Linked DNA regions of Homo sapiens. The protein of the gene in region 3 purifies or fractionates together with the protein of the main gene of each other region. This does not show direct contact. Each region holds a gene or a part of one and is shown on either strand. Other genes may lie near its edges.

The links. The genes of interacting proteins can lie anywhere in the genome.
Region 1: the proteins of ITGB8 (region 3) and RHEB purify together in Homo sapiens (affinity purification with mass spectrometry, with the first as the bait; one large-scale study listed by BioGRID). This does not show direct contact.
Region 2: the proteins of ITGB8 (region 3) and PAK3 purify together in Homo sapiens (affinity purification with mass spectrometry; one large-scale study listed by BioGRID and IntAct). This does not show direct contact.
Region 4: the proteins of ITGB8 (region 3) and PARL purify together in Homo sapiens (affinity purification with mass spectrometry; one large-scale study listed by BioGRID and IntAct). This does not show direct contact.

The regions. Positions count from the first base shown.
Region 1 is NC_000007.14:151,474,896-151,478,395, forward strand, and holds part of RHEB (GTP-binding protein Rheb), read right to left. Parts: intron 2,521-3,500; coding exon 2,438-2,520; intron 1-2,437. UniProt on the Homo sapiens protein: Small GTPase that acts as an allosteric activator of the canonical mTORC1 complex, an evolutionarily conserved central nutrient sensor that stimulates anabolic reactions and macromolecule biosynthesis to promote cellular biomass generation and growth.
Region 2 is NC_000023.11:111,094,941-111,098,990, reverse strand, and holds the start of PAK3 (serine/threonine-protein kinase PAK 3), read right to left. Parts: upstream 2,801-4,050; 5' UTR 2,576-2,800; intron 2,449-2,575; exon of another isoform or gene 2,254-2,448; intron 1,602-2,253; 5' UTR 1,535-1,601; intron 1,417-1,534; 5' UTR 1,307-1,416; intron 1-1,306. UniProt on the Homo sapiens protein: Serine/threonine protein kinase that plays a role in a variety of different signaling pathways including cytoskeleton regulation, cell migration, or cell cycle regulation.
Region 3 is NC_000007.14:20,337,400-20,340,899, forward strand, and holds part of ITGB8 (integrin beta-8 precursor), read left to right. Parts: intron 1-2,873; exon of another isoform or gene 2,874-3,069; intron 3,070-3,500. UniProt on the Homo sapiens protein: Integrin alpha-V:beta-8 (ITGAV:ITGB8) is a receptor for fibronectin. It recognizes the sequence R-G-D in its ligands.
Region 4 is NC_000003.12:183,864,381-183,867,880, reverse strand, and holds part of PARL (presenilin-associated rhomboid-like protein, mitochondrial isoform 1 precursor), read left to right. Parts: coding exon 1-16; intron 17-1,115; coding exon 1,116-1,256; intron 1,257-3,500. UniProt on the Homo sapiens protein: Required for the control of apoptosis during postnatal growth. Essential for proteolytic processing of an antiapoptotic form of OPA1 which prevents the release of mitochondrial cytochrome c in response to intrinsic apoptotic signals.

The DNA of each region.
Region 1 (3,500 bases), about 130 Mb from region 3:
TATTTGTGTATTCAGCATATAGGTTTCTAAAAAACAAAACACCACTCTTCTCACACTCATGTTTGAGATTTGAGAATGCTCATTAAACTATGAGTTACTGAGGTAAAAGGCATATAACAAAAGAAAACACACCCATTTTAGTAAGGAGAAACTTGGTCAAAACTTGCAACAGTGCCACTGAGAAGACACAGTACCAAGCTTTTTGTCCTCTGCTTTGCACTAGGCCAGTGTTTTCTCAAATACATAAGGTCCTTGGTGAGCACACTTTCATATTTTTAATCCAGCTCAATGTATTTTTCAATTTCCCCAGTGGCACATGCTATGTTTTCAACTTGATTCTATAATGTCATCTAATTTGTGCACACCAAAAAAGAGACTTAAAAAAAATCAGTGGATGCACTAAGAAAATTTTCTACCTACTACTTTAATGCCTCAAAGTAACAATTTGTAAAGTAACACCAACACTGTTTTCTAAAAATCAGCTAGGATAAAATTGTACTTACCAACAACAAAACAATCTTTGAATCATGTTTTTCAAGTAAATTAGTAAAATAATGGAAATTCATAAACAAACATGAACTTCCAACATTCATTAGATTATTGGTACACTAAATTTGTTCTGGACAAGGCCTTACACGTGGCAGTATATACATTTTAAAAATATACAACTGAAATTAAAAAAATCTTTGTATAAAAATGGCCAATAGTTTTACTATTTAAAGTGCTCTTATAAGTCAGTAAGAAAATGATCATGTTTCCAAATACTAAGTACACAGTGGTTTTAAGCATAAAATCCAATCCAAGCATTGCTTTCAGTGACAATATAAATAAATACATTAAACAGGAAGAGAGATATCCATCTATCATTGAACATGAAATATTATAAAGCCATTTACTATTTCAAATACTAGGTAATATGGAAAAATATATATTACATGGTAAGTAAAAATATAAAAACATGGAAAATATAAACCATAAAACAGCATTCAGAGAGCAAATAAAAGGATGTTAAAACAATCCATGCAGACTAAAACAAAGACCAGAAAAAACATATACCAAGATATTAACAGTATCTATGCTTAGGTAATTAGATTAAGAATGATTACCCTCACTTTCTATTTTTCACAGTTCCTCAATTTTCCTTAAGGAACACATAATTCTGGTACTTGGTTTTGATTCAGGTGTAAACTTTCTCGGGGATTGACAGTATGGGGTCTGTTTATAAGAATGGCCGAGAATGGTACTCAAACATTTTATAGCTAGAACTCAACACCCTAAAGTATGTTTCTCTGCCACGGAGAAAAATGTTAAACAACACACTCACAGAGCAGCAGACTGAATTTTCACTGGCAGTGGAGTATGTGGGGGTAAGGAACCCAGACACTGGCCAACATGGCAGCCTCCAGCCACATGTGGCTACTGAGCACCTGAAATGGGGCTACTGTAACCGAGGGAGGCTTAATTTTCCATTTTTAGTTAAACAGCCACCTGCAGCACAGAGAGCAAACACTTCTATCACCGCAGTAAGTTCTATTGGACAGTGTCAGCCTTGACTGTGGAACTGGAGAGATGGCTATGAATCCCAGCAATGTCATTATGTAGCCCTGGGCAAGCTGCTTTAGGTCTCTGTCACTCAGTTTCTTTCCACGTAAAGTGGGATATAAAACATCTCTGATGAAGGATTAAGGTAATGATGAAATAAGTAATGTATCATATGTAGGCAAAGAGAGTAGCAAACTCCCTAACATGTCGCACACACTCAATAGATGCTACGTAGCCACCAAACGCCCTCCACTGGCACTGATATTTTCATAAAGTCTTCAAACATAAGCTGTCACCAATGCCCAGAGCTCCGCTGCTGTATACAGCCAGCTGTTCTGTTAACAGACACAGACCACTGCTCCTCCTGATAATACATGCCATCCCCCGATAAGAGGAGACATGAAATACGTAGCTAGAGGAACCGATATCCATTCTTATTAATAAAAATAGTGGCTTTGTTTTTATGTAGTAAAGTCAGACTCTATTACCAAAAGGTCTTATTTCATAAATTCAAAGGATAAGATATTGAACAAACCCAAACCCCCACATTTTATTAGAAAGTCTATTTCACCTTAATATGGTAAAAACACACACAAAGTAAAATTAATTTAGGCATTTCCCATTTCAATTAGCAGAAAAGCTTAGATCATGCTGAACCACTGTTTTTCTAGGTAGCTTGAGGTAAGAAAGAGCCTTTTATCCTATTGGTGTAACTAACAGAACATCTAGTGGGCCATGTTTCCCAGCAATCCAGTTGCTCCACGAGAAAATCACTAAAAAACATGTAGCCTAATAATTCTAATTGTCACTATTAATAATTCCAGCACAGTCCCTTAAAAGGATCAATGTTATCTATGAGTAGCAAATCAACTCAAGCAGGCAGCAGGAGTCTTACCTTTTGATTGATGTAACAGAATACACAAGAATATAGCCATTAATATCTATGGAGTATGTCTGAGGAAAGATAGAATATTCATCCTGTGGGGAAAAAAAATTATCTTTGAGTAGTCTTCATATAGCATCACAAACAAACTTTACCCAAAGTTTTTCATGTATTACCTGAAGAAATCAAAGTAGACGCAGAGTGGATTACAATATTATGCCAGAAACAGCCTACAAAGTGAAGCTTTAAGAATGGCCTGGAGGTGATAATGTGGTTCAAGCCAATATTTAAAAATGACTAGCTGTTCTAGAACTTTAGGGGAAAGTCTGATGACCTTCATAATTTCTGGGAGAAGAGGATGGATGGAACACAAAAATCATTGGCTCTGTGATCTCAAAACAAGGGATGAGCATCACTAACTCCAGAACCTTCTAGACCTCAGGACATTTATAAATCCTGCTGATTTATCCCATAAATCTGTATTTTTATATTTGAAACTGGCATATTATTTGATTTATTCTCTGCATGTCAGTCACAATGACCTGAGCTTCAGTCTACAGGTTGCTAGAGGGGTGCCATCAGCATCTGAAGGAGAGAGGGAGAGAGGGAGGGAGGTGGGGGAGAGAGAGAGAAACAGAGAAAGAGAAAAGAGGATCAAAACACCAGGTTCAATTGAGGTATTCAGACTTTTGGGGACCAAGAGAGTTATTTACTGAGCAACTCTAGGAATTAAAGAGAAAGGTACCTATTACGCAACAGCACAGTAGTCTTTAGTTTTATAAAGCAGCGTTATGACACTTTGCTTTATATACGTATTAAAGCATACAGAAAGTTCTGATGTCAGTGCAGTTTTCAACAGCACGCGCCACTGTCTGGTACGAACGTTTCATTCTTAGTTGAAACTAAATTGTCAACATAACACATGTCCTAAGCACTATTATGGAAAAATCACATCATGGTACCAGAAGATTAAGCAGCAGTCTATTATTTTTGTAAACTTATAGTATGGTTATAACCACTGTTTATGACAGCCCAGAATTACTGCCCTATGGTAAAGTTCTTTAAAGAAAAAAAA
Region 2 (4,050 bases), on a different chromosome or scaffold from region 3:
TGCCGACTTGGCAGACGAGTCCATTCCAGGCCCTGCAGAGGGAAACGCCTAGCCCCCGGCAGGTGGGGGTGGGGGTGGGGGACGCGTAGCGGAGGCTTAAGTACGCCCCAGATGCCTAGAACGCTGCACTTACCTTCCGAAGTAAAGGTTTTACACAGTTCCCTGCGCACACAGGGTCCCCAGGGATCCTGAGAAGGAGGGCTTTTTTTCTTTTTTTTTTTTGAGCAGGGGTCCCAGACCAGGCCCCAGCCCACCCATGTAAAAGCAGTCAACCTACCTGTCTAGGCCAGATTGATAGCGCCTCCACTTCCCTTTGAGGCACCGTCCTTCCCCACTGCCCTCTCCTTACCCAGGAGGAAAGAGCCAGTTGTTGAGGCTGCTGCTCATTGAGTTTCTTGTTCTCTTGGTTAAAGCTACTGGTTCCTGAAGGTGGGTTACGTGGGTGGGGATGCTGTTGATTTTAAATATCTAGAATCATCCTTCTAATTCTTGGCTGAGCTACAGCTGCCTCAACCTCCAGAGTTGCCTATCTCACCAGAGAATTCAGGGCTTTTGGGTTGTTGGTAAGGCCACGACTTTTCTTCTCTCTCTCTCTAGTTTGCTCCTGCCTTCCTGCCTACTACATCTGATCTGTACACCTGATTTTTTTTTTTTTTTTTGCCTTGGCCACCTTCTTTAACCTTAATTTAGTAGCTTAGTCTCTGAACACATAATAGCAAACTCTCGGATGTCAGCACCTTCCCATCCCTGCAGTTCTTTTTATTTCTCGTTTCCCTCACCTGGTATGTCCACCACTCACCCTCTCCCAAGACCTCAGCAAACTTGTTTGCCCTATATACCATTTCCACCTCTGACCAGGAAATTCTGCAACCTGTGGGAATGGTTAGCTGGTGAGAATGTCCCTAGGGTCCTGTGTCCCCTAGCTTATAACCCTATTGCATGTGAACCTCCTTTTCCTGTCAGATCTCTCCTACAAGGCCCAGCTGCCTGTCCGGAGACTTGCAGGGTCAGCTCCTTGACATCCTAAGGTCTCTCTGACCTCAGGATTCTCAGCTGTCAGCTCTTGCCCAGGCTACCTCCTAGTCTCTTCCCATTTTGCTTCTTGCATGGGCTGGGGGATATGACACTTGTATCCAGAAACAGAGGCTTACAAATGGCTCTCTCTCCAAGCCTCTGCCTGTTAGTCATTCATTACCATATCAAGTCTTTTTGCCCAAAGTTGCCCCTGATTGGAGGCCTCAAGTACCAAATCACAGATCTTGCCCAATTATAATTTTGCAAATGGCCCAGTGAAAACCGCACTGACCTTTACACCTTGCTCATCCCAGAACAGGGCCACGGTGTTGTCACCAACAGGAATGGACCTCCTTCTGTTCCAATACCTCAGACAGCCATACACTTGGCCTGGATTTGAGTCTGCAAAACCATGAGGGGAGCAAGACTAACATGGCTAAAGGCTTCCCTGCTGAAAGCCGTTTTTTAAAAATAGCACTGCAACCGCCCCCATCATGCTTCCCAAAGCCAAGCCACTCACCCTTCTCTCCTTCGCTTCTACAGACCAACAGCCCAGAACCCTCAAGTCTAGAATCTGGAACTGGATTCTGAAAGGTGGGACCAAAAAAAAAAAAAAAAACAAGTGGGGCCTCTATCTCTCTCCTTGCCTGCATCCCCCTCTTCCCACCATCCCCCACCCCACCCCACCCCTTAACCACCACCTAGGGAAGGAAAACTTGCCAGAGTAAGAATCTAAAATGTTCAGTTCACCCAAAAGTGCGGCAGTAATCTTGCCAGAGCCAGTTCACAAACTGAGGGCAATGTCCCCCAGCGAGCTAAGGGGAACAGGAGAGAAGGAGAGGCAGTGGACCCAATGACACTGCTCCCCAGACAAAGAGAGGGCCAATCCAGGGACCCTGAGCTTTCTGGGGGCGTTATTGCATCATTCCAATCCCCACAGGAGAAGAAAAGGGTCCCCCTGTTATTACCATCCCCCCACCAAAAAAAGGGGAGGGGGATAAAGAAAAATAAAAGAAAGAGGGGAAGGCGCCCGTTTAAGAAAATCGTCACTTTTTCTCTTTCCTCGTGTGTGTGTGTGTGTGTGTGTGTGTGTGTGTGTGTGTGTGTAAGGGGCGGGGGGGTTCTACCCCGGACTTGGCCAGACCGTGGCCACACCCCCTCCCCTTTTCTAGGGAACTGCTGTCACAGCTACTGGGGCTGGGTAGGGGGGCGGGCGGGGGGGTGAAAGGGAAGACTTACAGGCTGACGTAGCTTTCAAGGCGGGTTTTGCCTCAAGCGGCCCAGGCCCCAGTAAACGAGTCTAGGGTTTGACCAAGCGAAGGAGCCCCGGCCCTCTGGGAACGGCCCTGACACACCCACTTGTCCGCGAACTGGGATCATGCAAACTGCTCGCTTGGTCTCAGGGCTCCGGGGAGCCACGTAGGAGACTCGAGGCTGGGGCACAAACAGGACAGGAGGGGGGTCCGGAAAGGCAGAACATCTGCCCAGCAGCCTTAAAGCATCATCCAACAGCCACCCCCTCCCCCGCGGTAGCCCGGGTGCAGTTAGTCGCGGGATTTACCTGCCACGGATCCAGCCACCCCGTCAAGACCTTTCCTCTACCTCCGAGCGCTCCAGCTGGCGGGGCTGGGGAGCCGCAGCCCCGCGGCCGCAGCCGCAGCCCCGGGCCCAGCCCGCTCCCCCTGGCTCTTCTCCCGCCCCCGCACACTGGCTCGAGGCGGGGAAAAGCTGCAGCCCCCAGTGCGAGATCCCAGACGGTTAGCTGGCACAGCTGCCCGCCCGCGGTAGAGCCCCTGCTCGGCAACCGCTCCCTAGCCCTTCTCTGCTATTACGTCACCCGAGCTCTGCACCTTACCTAGGCCAATCAGATGGTGAGCATAAAACTAAAATCGCCCTGAGTGGGCTACTGGGGACCAATCTTTTGTTTCCAGGCAGGAAGCGCCTGGGAGGGGGAAAAAACTGAAGGGGAGGGAACATGGAGAGGGAAAGGGAAAGGAGATGGAAACTTCTACACTGTCAGGGTTGTCTAGACAGAGGTGGGGCCATCAAAAAAGAGGGGCACCTGACAGGATGGAGAGGAGGGGAGAGTTCATGTATCTTCCTTAATTGCTCCCCTCAGGAGAATTGAGATTTCAGATGAATTTTCAGGGGACGAAATCTGTACAGCTACACGGGCACACTTTATTCGGGGGAAAAAACGGTTTCGATTTGGGACACCACCTGTCAGCCAGGCAGGTTAAACTGACGGAATCTCTAAAATACACAGAAAACTAAGAGAGACAGATGTGGCAGTGGAATTCAAAGAGATGGCAGTCTAGATCGGGAAACTACTTTTCTGCATATGAAGCACACACATTCCAAAAAGCAAGGAATTATACAAAAAATAAAAATAACTCTACTTCAAATGGAGCTTAAATGCGATTCTCTCTGTCCATCCTTTCCCTTAAACCTTCAAAGCTTTCTCTTGTCTTTAGGATACGGTTCAAATTTTTGCAGATGGCCAAAGCTTTATAAAATCTAACTCCAAAAATAATCTCTTGCTACTCCAAAATCCATACTCCCCATGATTTGGCTAGATTATGTAAATTATGGTGAATCCCAGCAAGGCGACAGTAAGCTGCCATAAAAAGTCAAATAATACAAAACAATAAGGACATTCAAATTATAATGATGTAAAATATGCCTACAGAAAACGATCAGAAGAGGACATAAAATTGTAACCGTTGGGTTAAACTAGTAGTATTATGAGTAACTTTTTCTTTCTACTTTCAAATTTATTTTCATAAAGATAAATATATCCTCACATACTTAAATGGCCAAAATAGATCATGACCCTTCCCAGTGAACTTTTATTCAATTTTCTCCACACTGTGTAACATCCAGCAATAATTTCTCCATAATGCCAACAAAATAGGTTTCAAGAACAAGAGTGAACTAATATATCTGCCCAGGTCCTTTTAGTAAAAGTCGTACAAAAGAGCTACAGATGACCACACGCGGTGGCTCACACCTGTAATCCCAGCACTTTGGGAAGCC
Region 3 (3,500 bases):
GCACATACAGCTTTATGACAGGCACTATACTGAGTTCTGGAGTTAAAAAATAACAACGATTAAGTTTTGTGTATTATTTACTGTAGGCCAGGCACCCTCCTGGACACATTATTTGAAAATATAATATATCCTTTAATGCTTACAACCCTGTTAGTTATATACTGTTATTCCCATTGTATAGGTAAGCAAACTAATTCAAGAGGCATTGTATAACTTCTTCCAGATCTCTTAACTAATAAATAATGGTCCCAGAATTCCGATCTGTGTGGTTTGAGTCAGCATTCTGAATCATAATTATAGACATATAGATTGCTTTTCAAAGGTGAGAGGAGTCCCTACCTTGAACCTTGGAAGGTTCAGCTCTAGCTGTCCTCAGGCCATTGACCTCAACCATGGGCAGGGAGTCCATGGGGCTTGCTCAAGTAAAGTCTGTCACCCCCTCTAGATCATCTCCAGAATTCTTAGCCTAAACAGCCTCAGACTACTTTTATGGCCTGCCTTCTGGGGGTAAACTGAGTCACCCCTGTGCCAAATCCTAGGTGAAGATGGCCAAGGACACTGATGCAGGAGAGGTAAACAGAGCTTGGACATGCAAGCTGAAGTGTCCATGCAGGTAAACAACAGGCTACCTGTGCTGCAGAATAAATTTAGAGGTGGGAGAGAAGAGGGGAAGATAATGGCTGGAGAGGCAACGCTTCACACACTGCCCAGTTCCTAACTAGAAATCTGGAGGTGAATATTCCAAATTCAGACCTAGCCTTCCAGGTCATTATGCATATATATTTATCAAGGAAGGAAGATAGAACTTATTTTACCTATGGGTTTCTTTGCCTGGTTTGTAGCTGTTAAATATGTAGTCTGTTATGCTCACTGCTATTTGTGTTCTTGCTGTTGGCCCTGAAACAGTTAGGGGCAGACTTGTCTACTAGTTTAAATATTACTGGGGGCCGGTTGCAGTGGCTAACAACTGTAATCCCATCACTTTGGGAGGCTGAGGTGGGAGGAACACTTGATGTCAGGAGTTCGAGACCAGCCTGGCCAACATGGAGTAAAGACCAGCCCGTCTTTACTAAAAATACAAAAATTAGCGGGGCATGGCAGTGCGCACCTGTAGTCCCAGCTACTTGACAGGCTGAGGCACAAGAATTGCTAGATCTCAGGAGGTTGCAGTGAGCCAAGATCATGCCACAGCACTCCAGGCCTGGGCAACAGAGCAAGATTGCATCTCAAAAATAGATAAATAAATAATAAACAAATAAATATTATTGAGCCGGGGAGACAAAGAAAGCACCAGAGACCATTGCATAAGGTAGTCTGGTAGTCTTGACTACCTCATGTCAAAGTGTTTTTATATTTTAATAACTAAATCCCTTTTGGTAATCTTTGAGATGTGTACAGATTATACAAAATTTTACTCTCTTGCAAATCATGTTACAATGAGAGTCAAATGTATGCATAGTCTTAATTTAGTTTTACTTATTTCCCTCTATTATTTTAAAAAATATCTTAGAAGGCTGGCCACAGTGGCTCACACCTGTAATCCCAGCACTTTTGGAGGCAGAGGTGGGTGGATCACGAGGTCAGGAGTTCGAGACCAGCCTGGTGAACAGGGTGAAACCCTGTCTCTACTAAAAATACAAAAATTAGCTGGATGTGGTTGCACACACCTACAGTCCCAGCTACTCAGGAGGCTGGGGCAAGAGAATCATTTGAACCCATGAGATGGAGGTTGCAGTGAGCCGAGATCGTGCCATTGCTCTCCAGCCTGGCGACAGAGCGAGACTCCATCTCGAAAAAAAAAAAAAAAAACAACTTAGGAAAGAACATTTTACTGACATGAATGACCTAATTTGGTCAAATTATTCAGTTGGCATATATTTGATATTTAATATCTATAAGTGAATGACTATATAGAAAAAGCAGTGCCATACTATATTCATGGAGTAAAAGGACTATTTTTCGACTTAAAGTGAATCTTAATGTGACCTTATTTCCTCTTTCGCAGTAAGTAAATTATTTGATTTACACACCAAAAAAGTGTATTGAAAGTCAGAATGATTTCCATTGGGATTTTATAATTTAATTAAAACAGACCCACCTTTTAACAAAAGTGCTAAGATCAATTCTTGCTAGGAAACTACTAATATTAAACAGATATATTTAAATTATCTTCCTGCAGTTATTGAAAAAAGTCCTTAACTAATATTAGTTTAGGAAACAAAAATAAGATTATTAACTTAAAATTGCATTGTTAAAGTGTTCTTATCAGATATATACTTTTAAGATGATTTTTAAAGATGCTTCTATTTTGAGTGCTATTATCCAAAGTACTAAAAGTTCATTTTAGGCCAGGCGCGGTGGCTCACATCTGTAATCTCAGCACTTTGGGAGGCCAAGGTGGGTGGATCACCTGAAGTCAGGAGTTCAAGACCAGCCTGGCCAATATGGTGAAACCCTGTCTCTACTAAAAATACAAAAATTAGCCGGGCATGGTGGCAGACACCTGTAATCCCAGCTACTTGGGAGGCTGAGGCAGGAGAATCGCCTGAACCCGGGAGGCGGAGGTTGCAGTGAGCCGAGATTGTGCCACTGCACTCCAGTCTGGGAGAGAAAAAGCGAGACTTTGTCTAAAATAAAATAAAATATAAAAGTTTGTTTTATAAACAGCATATAGGGTCTTATAAAGTGGCCTTTCATGCTGACCTCATCAATGAGCCAACCATCACTGCTATAATGGTTTTAGACGTGCGCTATCTCTGCCTGGTGTTTTATTGATGTTTTGCTTTGTTGTAATCAAATAATACTGTTACATTTGTTAAGGACAGAATCTGTTGCTATTCCAGATAAATATTGGTATCGTTTGTTTATTCTAGAGGATTGCCAAAAAATTCACAGTCTCGTGATAGTACAGGGTAAGAAAGCAGAGTAGCTGTCAAGGGCTAGTTCAAGTCAAAGCCTATGGAAGAGACCGAGTTTGGAAGTGGAGAGAAGGGCTGGTGATGAAGACAGGAGGATGAAAAACTAGAAATATTCCAGCTCTGAAGAACTGTACCAAATATGTCATATTAGGTATGTGAGATGTGTGGTGGATTTGGGCCAGGAATGTTTTGGTGTTTTCCATGGTTTTGGACTCAACTTCCTTTTAGGATAAAGCGGGTTGAAATTTCAAGATCTGCCGATAGTAAATGAAGCCACAGTTAAAAGTACTGCTGTTTCATGTGTACATGTGGTATCAGGGATCTTTCCTTGGAATTGAACCACAAACAGCTTCCCAGGTAAAGGCATTTTTTTTTCCTGATTTTAGTAAGGACCATATATTTAGGATTATTTCTTAGTAACTGTTACAGGTACTAGGTAGGGAAGGGGGCTGGGTGAAAAGCTTCATCCTTATGGAATGAGGGATTACCACTATGCTGTAAAGGATCATTAGAATATTATGAGGTCAAACAAAGAAAATAATTAAAAGGAAAATTCAAAATTCTACAAGGACTGGATTGACA
Region 4 (3,500 bases), on a different chromosome or scaffold from region 3:
ATTTTTTACTGTTGGGGTAAGAGCTCACTTTGCTAGGAGTTACCTACCTTGCTAGAAATGCAGTGTTAAAGTACTTTGTCCCATTTGGGCTCCCTTAAAGTAAGGACAGGTAGAGGGGGGATCAAAAAGAGCTGGGCTCATGAATTCTAATTATAGAGTCTGAATTTTTTTTTTTTTTTTTGAGACGGAGTCTCACTCTGTCGCCCAGGTTGGAGTGCAGTGGCGCGATCTCGGCTCACTGCAAGCTCCACCTCCTGGGTTCACACCATTCTCCTGCCTCAGCTTCCCAAGTAGCTGGGACTGTAGGCACTGGCCACCACGCCTGGCTAATTTTTTGTATTTTTAGTAGAGACGGGGTTTCACCTTGTTAGCCAGGATGGTCTCGATCTCCTGACCTCATGATCCGCCCGCCTTGGCCTCCCAAAGTTCTGGGATTACAGGAGTGAGCCACTGCGCCCGGCCTAGAGTCTGAACTTAAAAATTGCTTTTATTATTAAATTCTGGCTTACTTATGTAAGCCCTAGAGAATAAACATATGGGCCTTGTTTGGTACAGCATTTCAAGCGGTGCTAAGTTGGTATTTTCAGTTTTATTTGAGGATTTATAGCTGGAAACAGGCCCCAGGGTATTGTGAAGTTAATACAATGGGAAACAATAAAATGTCCTTTTTGGCCAGGCACAGTGGCTCATGCCTGTAATCCCAGCACTGGAGGCCAAGGTGGGTGGATCACCTGAGGTCAGGAGTTCGAGACCCCTCTGGCCAACATGATGAAACCCCGTCTCTACTAAAAATACAAAAATTAGCCGGGCCTGGAGGCAGGTACCTGTAATCCTAGCTACTCCAGAGGCTGAGACAGGAGAATCACTTGAACCTGGCAGGCAGAGGTTGCAGTGAGCCCATATCGCACCATTACAGTCTGGCCTGGGAGACAAGAGTGAAACTCCATCTCAAAAAGAAAAAAAAAAGCCCTTTTCACTTATTAGGTTTCACTGTGCCAAGTATTCCCTTCTGTTGGTTTGTAAAAAGCAATGACAGTGAAGAATTCTCCTTGGAAATAATGTATAGATCTATTTCCCTCTTAAATCTATTTTGTAATATATCTAATTTTATATAGTTTACAGGCTGTGCATTTGGATCAGCTGCTATTTGGCAATATGAATCACTGAAATCCAGGGTCCAGAGTTATTTTGATGGTATAAAAGCTGATTGGTTGGATAGCATAAGACCACAAAAAGAAGGAGACTTCAGAAAGGAGGTAAAGATAAACACTGCTTTCTTTCTTCTAGTTAATCACGGTTTTAAAAAACTGATACTTAATAGATGCACGTGTTTTCAGTGTACATGATGCATTCACATAATGTGTAATAATGAAATCTGAGGAACTGAATATCTATCACCTTAAACATTTATCTTTATGCTAGGTATATTTGAATTGTTCTCCACTAGCTATTTTGAAATGTACTATAGATTATAGTTGACTGTAGTTACTCTACTGGTAATCCCAGGTTTTGAAGCCTGGTTATTTATGAAGTGCTTTTAGTTAATGGCAACATCAGATTAATAGATGTCAAGTCAGTGCACTTAATATTCTTCACAGTAAGTATTGATTACTGTTTTATATATCTGGTGTTGTACTTAACAGTGTTCCAGAATTCTGTCCCTCTACCCACATGCATCAAAAATCACCACGGATAGTTGTTAAAAATGTTAACGTTGGCCGGGCACAGCGGCTCAAGTCTATAATCCTAGCACTTTGGGAGGCCAAGGCAGTCAGGAGCTGGAGACCAGCCTGGCCAACATAGTGAAATCCCATCTCTACTGAAAATACAAAAATTAGCCAGGCGTGGTGGTGCATGCCTGTGGCCCCAGCTACTCAGGAAGCTGAGGCAGGAGAATCGCCTGAACCCAAGAGGCAGAGGTTGCAGTGAGACGAGATTGTGCCACTGCACTCCAGCCTGGGTGACAGAGCGAGAACTCATCTCAAAAAAAAAAAAAAAGAAAAGAAATTAATGTTAATAGTTGTTAATGTTTCTGCGTGGAGGATGTCTCAGCTCTACTAAAGTTTAAGGATCTCAGTGGATCTCAGCTCTACTAAAGTTTAAAGGCCACTGTTTTACTTGGATCACCTTGATGGATTGCTTTAGAGCAGCAGTCACCAACCTTTTTGGTACCAGGGACTGGTTTTGTGCAAGACAATTTTTCCACAGGTCGGGGTTGCAGGGGGGCAGATGGTTATGGGATGAAACTGTTCCACCTCAGATCATCAGGCATTAGATTCTCATAAGGAGCGTGCCACCTAGATCCCTCACATGTGCATCTCACAGTAGGGTTTGCATTCATGTGAGAATCTTATGCAGCCACTGATCTGACAGGAGGCAGAGCTCTGGTGGTAATGCTCTCCCACTGCTCACCTCCTGCTGTGTGGCCCAGTTCCTAACAGGCCACGGACCACTAGTGGTCAGCAGCCGGGTTGTTGGGGACCCTGGCTTTAGAGTACGTATTTGAACTGCAGGGAATTTTTCAAAATATACATGCCTTAGGGATAGAGCTAGCAAGTGATTTTTTTTTCTAAGAGACAGCGTCCCACTCTGTCACCTAGGCCTCAGTGCAGTAATGGGATCATAGCTCACTGAAGCCTCAAACTCCTGGGTTTGAGCAGTCCTCCCGCCTCAGTCTCCTGAGTAGCTGGGACTACAGGCGTGTGCCACCATGCTGGGCCAATTATTTCATTTTTTGTGGAGACAGGAGTCTCACTTTGTTGCCCAGGCTGGTCTCAAACTCCTGACCTCAAGTGATCTCCCACCTTGGCCTCCCAAAGTGCTGGAATTTCACAAGTGTGAGCCACTGTGCCTGGCCCCAAGAGGAGTTTTAAACGTTTCTCAGTGACATGATATTTACACACCTGTGGTAAATACCTGCTGTTGAGTGTCTCTAAACTGTGCTCGAGATGAAATACGGAAAAAAAAAAAAAAAAAAGAAATATGGAGCTTTTAGAGCTTTTCATTTACTTTATATGCAAGTCGATGGCCCTCTTTCTTAACTGATTTCTTAAAAATGTTTGCTTTTAGATAAAACATGTATTTTGTTTCTTTTTTTTTTTCTTTTGAGACAGAGTCTCACTTGTTGCCCAGGCTGGAGTGCAGTGGCGCGATCTCTGCTCACTGCAAGCTCTGCCTCCCGGGTTCACGCCATTCTCCTTCCTCAGCCTCCGGAGTAGCTGGGACTACAGGTGCCCGCCACCACGCCCGGCTAATTTTTTGTATTTTTGGTAGAGACGGGGTTTCACCGTGTTAGCCAGGATGGTCTCGATCTCCTGACCTCGTGATCTGCCCACCTCGGCCTCCAAAAGTGCTGGGATTACAGGCATGAGCCACCGAGCCCAGCCAATATTTTATTTCTTTTATTCACCAATACATATTGAACACTGAGATTTTAGTTAATATGTGGTTTCAGGCCCATTTGGTTTTCAAGCACTTCTGTTTTTTTAATGACACATTGC